Linked DNA regions of Homo sapiens. The protein of the gene in region 1 interacts with the protein of each later gene in a pairwise test. Each region holds a gene or a part of one and is shown on either strand. Other genes may lie near its edges.

Region 1 (3,819 bases):
TTAGATGATCCACAGTGATAAATTTGAATGGCTTAATATGAGGTGCTGGAGGAAGTCCTTACTTTCACTAGAGCAGAATTTTGGGGCACACTTGACTTGTTGATTCTCTGAGGGCAGGCTGGGTACTGAATACCAGAGGAAGTCATCATTTTTCTGATGTGAGTGAGCAATTTAAGGGACATATTTTTGAAATTGTGACTCAGATAGTCTGTGCTGTGTTTGGGAAGGTTAAGTTGAGAGGTGGTGGGTAGGGGAGGGCAAGTGGTGGATACAAAGGTAGCGATTGGAGAGGTGCAGGGGTCTCTTCTTGGTTACAGTTTCCATGCAGCTGCACCAACAGTATCGATCCTCTGTTAGGGACTGTAGTATGTAGCAAGCTCTAAAGCACTTCCCAAGCCTATTATTTTTGTTGCTATTTTACAGTAGAATAGGGGGTTTGGAGAAGTCATAGTAGTTGTCCCTGGGTTTCATAGCTAAGGATGATAGAACCTCCCGGGGCCACCACATTCCAAAGCCTGTGATCTCCCCACTCTCCTGCTTGGCTTTTCTTCTTCTCTTTTGATAAGAGTCCTGGGAAGACATTTGTTTAAGTTTAGGTGTCTAATGGATACTAGTCTCTAGGCCTGCTACTTGCTTTTCTTCTCCTTCCTCACTTTTAAAAAGATAATTTGTACTCCAAGCACTGTGTAATGGAGATTAATACAAGCCACAAATATAATTTAAAATTTTATAGTAGCCACATTAAAAAGAAGCAGGTGAAATTCATTTTCATAATTTATTTAACTCAATATATATAAAATATTACCATTTCAACAGGTAACTGATCTAAAAATTACTGGGATGTTTTACATTCTCTTCTTATACTAGTGAGTATTTCTCTTCAAAATCTGGTGTGCATTTTACACTTATAGCACCTCTCAACCTGGACTAGCCTCATTTCACATGCTCAGTAGCCACGTGTGGCCTGTGGCCTTCATATTGAAGAGTGCAGGTCTGTACAGACATGCATGCTCATCTGACCTGCATGCTAATTCATTTATTGCGTGGGTGTGTGTGTGTGTGTCCGTTTGTGTGTGTGTGTGTGTGTGTCCGTGTGTGTATAACCAGTTTGTATGTGAGAATTAGTGTGCCCCTGTTTTGGAGCAGACATTTGGACCACGTGATGACCTTTGGAAGGAAATGGCACCAAGAATGATGTCCAGAGCCACTTGATGAGTATCTGATGAAGAGATGCACATGGCAGGGGCTGTCTGGCTGCCTCAGGGCCACTGTTGTCTGCTCACCTCTATTTGTAGTGGCATCTTATCTTTTTGTGGGGGAAATGTGAACTAATATGTCCAAGTGATTAGTGCTGGGTCTCCCTGTTTCCTTTGTGCAGCTGATCCAGGGGATCACTGATCCAGGGGAGCTTTTGTGGTGGCTAGCATCCATAATGACCAAAGAGGAGATCTTAAGAGATGTTTTTGTCCCGGGATTTCGTTATCTATGGCTCTATGTTTCTTCTTGTCCCCACAGTGATGCACCATGCCAATAGTGGATAAGTTGAAGGAGGCCCTGAAACCCGGCCGCAAGGACTCGGCTGATGATGGAGAACTGGGGAAGCTTCTTGCCTCCTCTGCCAAGAAGGTCCTTTTACAGAAAATCGAGTTCGAGCCAGCCAGCAAGAGCTTCTCCTACCAGCTGGAGGCCTTAAAGAGCAAATATGTGTTGCTCAACCCCAAAACAGAGGGAGCTAGTCGCCACAAGAGTGGAGATGACCCACCGGCCAGGAGACAGGGTACAGATGTGCAGTGTGCTGGCAGAGAGGCCCTCACTCCGGGGTGACGAAGTGGATGGACTTAAATATTGACTAATTAGTAGGAAAAACAAGAGAATGTGGTCAAAGAGTTATGAATTTTTACATGGGGTCAGTGGATTTCAGTTATAGAAGTAATGATACAGGGTTGGTAGCAAGGAAATCTGTGTGCTTGGTGGATCTGTGTACTTGGTGGGTCCTTGGACTTGCTGTCCCCCTATCCCAAGTATAATACAGTCGAAAGTCAGGCTTGGAACTAAGAAAGAGAAATGGGGTGGGCTGCATGTGGGCACAGTGTGGTGCAGAGTGCCAGGCCTGGCTCCTTCCGCCACTCAGTCTCTGAGCTGTGTCCTCCATCTATAGAGGGGCCCTTGAATTCTTTAGCCAAGCAGCCTAGGAGGTCCGTGGGATGGCTGGGTTTACTCCTGAGCTTTCCAGGAATGTCCTGTAAACCAGAACACCAGTTCTTCTCTGGTGCCATGTTCCGAGTCACTGCATGCTAAGTGTATGCTTCAGGAGTTTCTTTTTGTGGACGACCTGTGTGTGGACTTACGTCTTCCTCTTTTCTTCCCTTGTCCCTTTCTTCCTCAGGCAGTGAGCACACGTATGAGAGCTGTGGTGACGGAGTCCCAGCCCCGCAGAAAGTGCTTTTCCCCACGGAGCGACTGTCTCTGAGGTGGGAGCGGGTCTTCCGCGTGGGCGCAGGACTCCACAACCTTGGCAACACCTGCTTTCTCAATGCCACCATCCAGTGCTTGACCTACACACCACCTCTAGCCAACTACCTGCTCTCCAAGGAGCATGCTCGCAGCTGTGAGTGTGGGTTTGCAGCAGTGGGGTGGCTGTGGGTCCTCTGGATTAGATAAGCCCATGCACTTGTGGCACTGCTGCTCTCAGTCTGGGTCAAATTTAGGAGGGTAGTTCATAATGTATAGTAACTGATGAAACCTAAATTTGAATCATGCCTGCTGCAGAATGGGCCATGAAGGTGAATCGGTCAGGTGGGGCTGTGTTCGCCAAGCTTTTCTGTAAATAATTACCCAGACAGAAACGTTTTCAAAAGATACTTCCAAAATATATATATATATATATATACAAATATTATTTTTTTAGAGACAGTATCTTGCTCTGACACCCAGGCTGGAATGCAGTGGCTCCATCACAACTCGTTGTAGTCTTGAACTCCTGGGCTCACATGATCCTCCCATCTCAGCCTCCCAAAGTGCTGGGATTATAAGTGTGAGCCACCATGCCTAGCCCAATTGTTTTATGCATCTGTTGTTGTATCAGCATATCTTATGTGTATTATAAAACGTGCAGCCTGGACAACACAGCAAGATCCCATCTCTACAAAAACAAATCAAGGCCGGGCACGGTGGCTCACACCTGTGGGAGGCAGAGGTGGGCAGATCACTTGAGGTCAGGAGTTGGAGACCAGCCTGGCCAACATGGCGAAACCCGGTTTCTACTAAAAATATAAAAATTAGGCGTGATGGGGTGCACCTGTAATCCCAGCTGCTCGGGAGGCTGAAGCAGGAGAATTGCTTGAACCCAGAAGGTGGAGGTTGCAGTGAGCTGACCAAGATCATGCCGCTGCACTCCAGCCTGGGTGACAGAGCAAGACTCCATCTCACACACACAAAAAACAAATCGAAACAATTAGCTGGATGTGGTGGTGTGCTCTATTTGATTAAAATAGAGGTGAAATAAGATATAACTTACCAAAACTGAAAGAAATAGAAAGTGAAGAGTCTTTTAACTATTAAAGAAATTAAAGCATTGGTTAAAAATCTTCCCATAAAAAACCCCAAGCAGAGACAATGTTATTTCTGTGTAACTTTTTTTTTTTTTTGAGACGGACTCTGTTGCCTAGGCTGGAGTACGGTGGTGTGATCTCAGTTCACTGCAACCTCCGCCTCCTGGGTGCAAGCAATTCTCCTGTCTCAGCCTCCCAAATAGCTGGGACTATAGACGCACGCCACCACGCCTGGCTAATTTTTGTATTTTTAGTAGAGATGGGGTTT
Region 2 (3,819 bases), on another chromosome or scaffold:
CTGCAGGAGGAGGGATACATTCAACTCAGAGGTGGGATGGGTACAGGAAACACCTCACAGATAAGGGGACAAATTGTATTCAAGCCTTCAAGGATGCGCTGGACTGGAGAGAAGAGCATGTACAAGGGAATGGGTGGAGAGTGGGGAGTGAAGAAGGGGCTGTCTTCCTGGTTCAGTGTATCTAATGGCCAGAGAATTAGGTAGGACGAGGAGGGATTTGGGGCTGGATGGGTAAGTTGGGGCTAGCCGGATGCAGGGCAGGGGAGGATGTCTGTGCAGTTTTTTTTTTTTGTTTTGAGTCAGAGTCTCGCTCTGTCACCCAGGCTGGAGTGCAGTGGCGTGATCTCAGCTCACTGCAACCTCCGCCTCCTGGGTTCAAGCGATTCTCCTGCCTCAGCCTCCCGAGTAGCTAGGACTACAGGCGCGTGCCACCATGCCCGGCTAATTTTTGTATTTTTAGTAGAGGCTGGGTTTCACCATGTTGGCCAGGATGGTCTCGATCTCTTGACCTCATGATCTGCCCACCTCGGCCTCCCAAAGTGCTGGGATTACAGGCGTGAGGCACCGTGCCCGGCCACCTGTGCAGTTTTGACCTCAGCTAGTAGGAGTTTTTTTGGTGTGTTTGTTTTTATTTTTATTTTTATTTTTATTTATTTATTTTATTTTAGAGACAGTCTCTCCCTATGTTGGCCAGGCTAGTCTTGAACCCCTGGATTCAAGGGATCCTCCTGCCTCAGCCTCCCACAGTGCTAGGATTATAGGCATGAGGCACCAAACCCAGCCTCAGCTAGGAGATTTGAAGCAGGAGAATAACAAGGATGAGATCCTGTGTGCTAGAAGGATGATCCTGGCAGCACTTTTTAGGAAATATGCCACATCTCACCAAATCTAAGATGCTATTTGTCTTAATCCATTTTCTGTTGCTGTAACAGAATACCACAGACTGGGTAAATTGTAAACAACAGATGTTTATTCAGCTCACGGTTCTGGCCAATGGACTCTTGCAAGAAAGGCATTAATCCATTCATGAGAGTTACACCCTCATGACCCAGTCACGTCTTAAAGACCCCACCTCTTAATACCGTTACATTGGCAATTACGTTTCCAACACGTGAACTTTTGGGGGACATGTTCAAACCACAGCACCACCAAATCTTTTATGTGCCCTTATTTTATGCTCCACATCAAAAAAATATTTTGCCAGTTAAATTATGACATGCAATTGATCACATTTCAGAGATGCTAAAATGTGATGTCACAGGTGTCTCAAATTTGATGAAAAGCACTAACTCCCTTGCTGATGGCTTAGATTCCTCCCTTTCCCTGGATTAATGGTTAGGATGTCTCCATCTCACTAACTCATAGATGGTAAGTTACCAAGGGAAAGAAGAACAGAAGCTGGGTGGGCCCTTCCCCTTCTCTCCCCAAAGATAAACATTTACAACATTTACTGGTTGGGTCGAGGAGCACAATATCTGGTCTGCTGCTATAGGATTCCTTGGCCTGTTATTGGGCCTGTCTCATGCTGTTTCCTTTTGGGGAGTTAAATACACACACACACACACACACACACACACACACACACACACACACACATATTCTATATCCCATCCTCCAGAGTGGCAAAAATTAAAGCTGATATTATCAGGTGTTGGTGAGGCTGTGGGGCATCATGAGTGCTCATAGCCTGCTGAGCAGACTACATAGCACTATAGTCACTTTGGAAACAGTTTGGCCTGCTTAGTCAAATTGAGGGTACATCTTGCCTGTGTGTGCTAGAACATGTATGCAGAAATATTCACTGAAGCAGTGTTTGTAATTGTCCCAAACTGGAAACAACTCATATGGCTATCAGTAGACTGCATTAAAAATTGTATAGTTAGAGAGCAGCAATTAAGTAAAATCAGCTCATAATCACATGGATGAGCCTCACAAACATGTTGACAGCCCCCCACCCAAATACATGGAAAAAAAAAAAAAAAAAAGGAAAAAAATTCCATTCATTTGAGGCTCAAAACCTGAGAAAATAAACTCTGTTTATGGGGTGTATACCTAGGTCTAAAACTAAAGAAAAGGGAAGGAGTGATTCTCACTATTACAATTTACTCCACAACAACCATTTTCTCAGACACAGCTTTTTCTTCTCCTGGTTTCTGTAAGTTGCTGGAGCGAAACCTTGGATACGATGATTTGCTGGTGACGTGCAGCCCACTGTTCTTGCTGCTACAGGGAATATGAAGAAATTGCTTCTCTCTCTACCAATTTACTACCATCTTGCTGGAGAGAAAGGGCAGGTGGCTAAGATTGTTCGCATTCCTTCAGCAGATGTGTAGGAAGCATCTTCTTTGTGTCAGATACTCTGTGCTTGTGCTTTGTTTTCTCAGTCAGTTTTTATTGTCTACTCTGTGCCAAGTAATATGTAGATTCTGGTGATAAGACAGACACAATCTCTCTCCTTGTTTCATGGAAAAAGCTGGTGTTAAGCGAGTAATTACACTAATAAGTCAGGACTTAAAACTGCAGAGAAGTACAGGGTGCAGCATGGGGTGTTTTGGGGCTGTATAACTAGACTACATGTGGACCCAATCTGACAGGTCAGGAAAGAATTGCCAGAGGAGGTGGCTTTCAGCTGAGACTTCAAGCTAGAAAAGGCATTTGCTAAGTGGGAAAGGGATGGTGTTCTAGGCAGAAGGAATTACATTGTCGAAGGGCTTAGCCAGGAAAGAGCATAGCACTTTGAGGCATGGAGAGCGGTTTGGTTTGGCTGTGAGTTTGAGGTGGGGAGTGGCAGGAAATGAGCCTGGAGACACAGGCTGGGCCATGATTATCTGGGAATCCAGCTAGGATCTCCTGGGACAGCCTCCTCACAGAAGAAAGGAAGGACAGGAGTTTTGACTTTATTCCTGGAGCACCAGAAAGCCATTGAGGGGTTTAACCTGGTTGGTCACCCGGGCAGATTGGCAGTTTAACACGTGACCGAGTGTGTTTGAGGATCAAAAGGCCAGAGTGGCTGCAGCACTGGGGCAGCAAAGGGGAGAGGAGGTTTATGTAAATCAGGAAACCCTTGAGGGTTTGATGATCCCACAGTTGGATCTGATTTCAGCTTCTAAAGGATTCCTCAGGTCACTGGATGTAAGTTCTGGTAGGACAGGGAGTTTGCCACTTTTGTTCTCTGCTGTAACCTCGGTGCCTGACACATAGTCGGCACCTAATAAACATCTGCTAGCTGTTGAATAACTTTCAACATCCTGCTGCTTAAACCCTCAATGGCTTCCCAGGGCTGTTAGGATAAAGTCCAAAATTCTTAACCTGGGTCACAGTCTTGCATAATCTGTTCCCTCCTGTTTCTCCACCCTTCCTCTGCTCGCCTCACTGCACTCCACCTGTGGCCAATTGTCAGCTCCTCAAATTCACCGCTACCCTTTCTCCGGCGGATGATTTCCTCTGCCTGTGAGGCTAACCCTCCACAGCACTCCATATGGGCAGGGAAGAGTTCATTTTCCAGGCACCAAAGTGCAGTGTATGGTGGAATGGAAGGAGCCCAGAGCTGGGAGGTGCACCTCACCCCACCTCGTGCTAGTGCTGGCCTTGCTGCCAGCCAGCTCTGCTGCTGGGCAAATGAGTCCGAGGCTCTGGCACTCACTGTCCTCCTCTGTAAATAAGGGGTTCTAGTGATTCACAGTCCTGGATAGACTTTAGAATCTCCTGGGAAGTTTGTTTTTTAATACCAGAGCCTGGGCCACCTCTGGAGATCCTAAGTCAGTTGGTCTAGGTATGTTTTGAAGACTCACCAGTTTGAAGACTACAAATCTGATGTGT

Evidence for each region.
Region 2: the proteins of USP36 (region 1) and TRIM26 interact in a two-hybrid assay, tested with the Homo sapiens proteins (one large-scale study listed by BioGRID).

Annotation. Positions count from the first base shown.
Region 1 is NC_000017.11:78,834,069-78,837,887, reverse strand, and holds part of USP36 (ubiquitin carboxyl-terminal hydrolase 36), read left to right. Parts: intron 1-816; exon of another isoform or gene 817-991; intron 992-1,515; 5' UTR 1,516-1,524; coding exon 1,525-1,777; exon of another isoform or gene 1,778-1,889; coding exon of another isoform or gene 1,890-1,906; intron 1,907-2,386; coding exon 2,387-2,608; intron 2,609-3,819. UniProt on the Homo sapiens protein: Deubiquitinase essential for the regulation of nucleolar structure and function. Required for cell and organism viability.
Region 2 is NC_000006.12:30,206,682-30,210,500, reverse strand, and holds part of TRIM26 (tripartite motif-containing protein 26), read left to right. Parts: intron 1-3,819.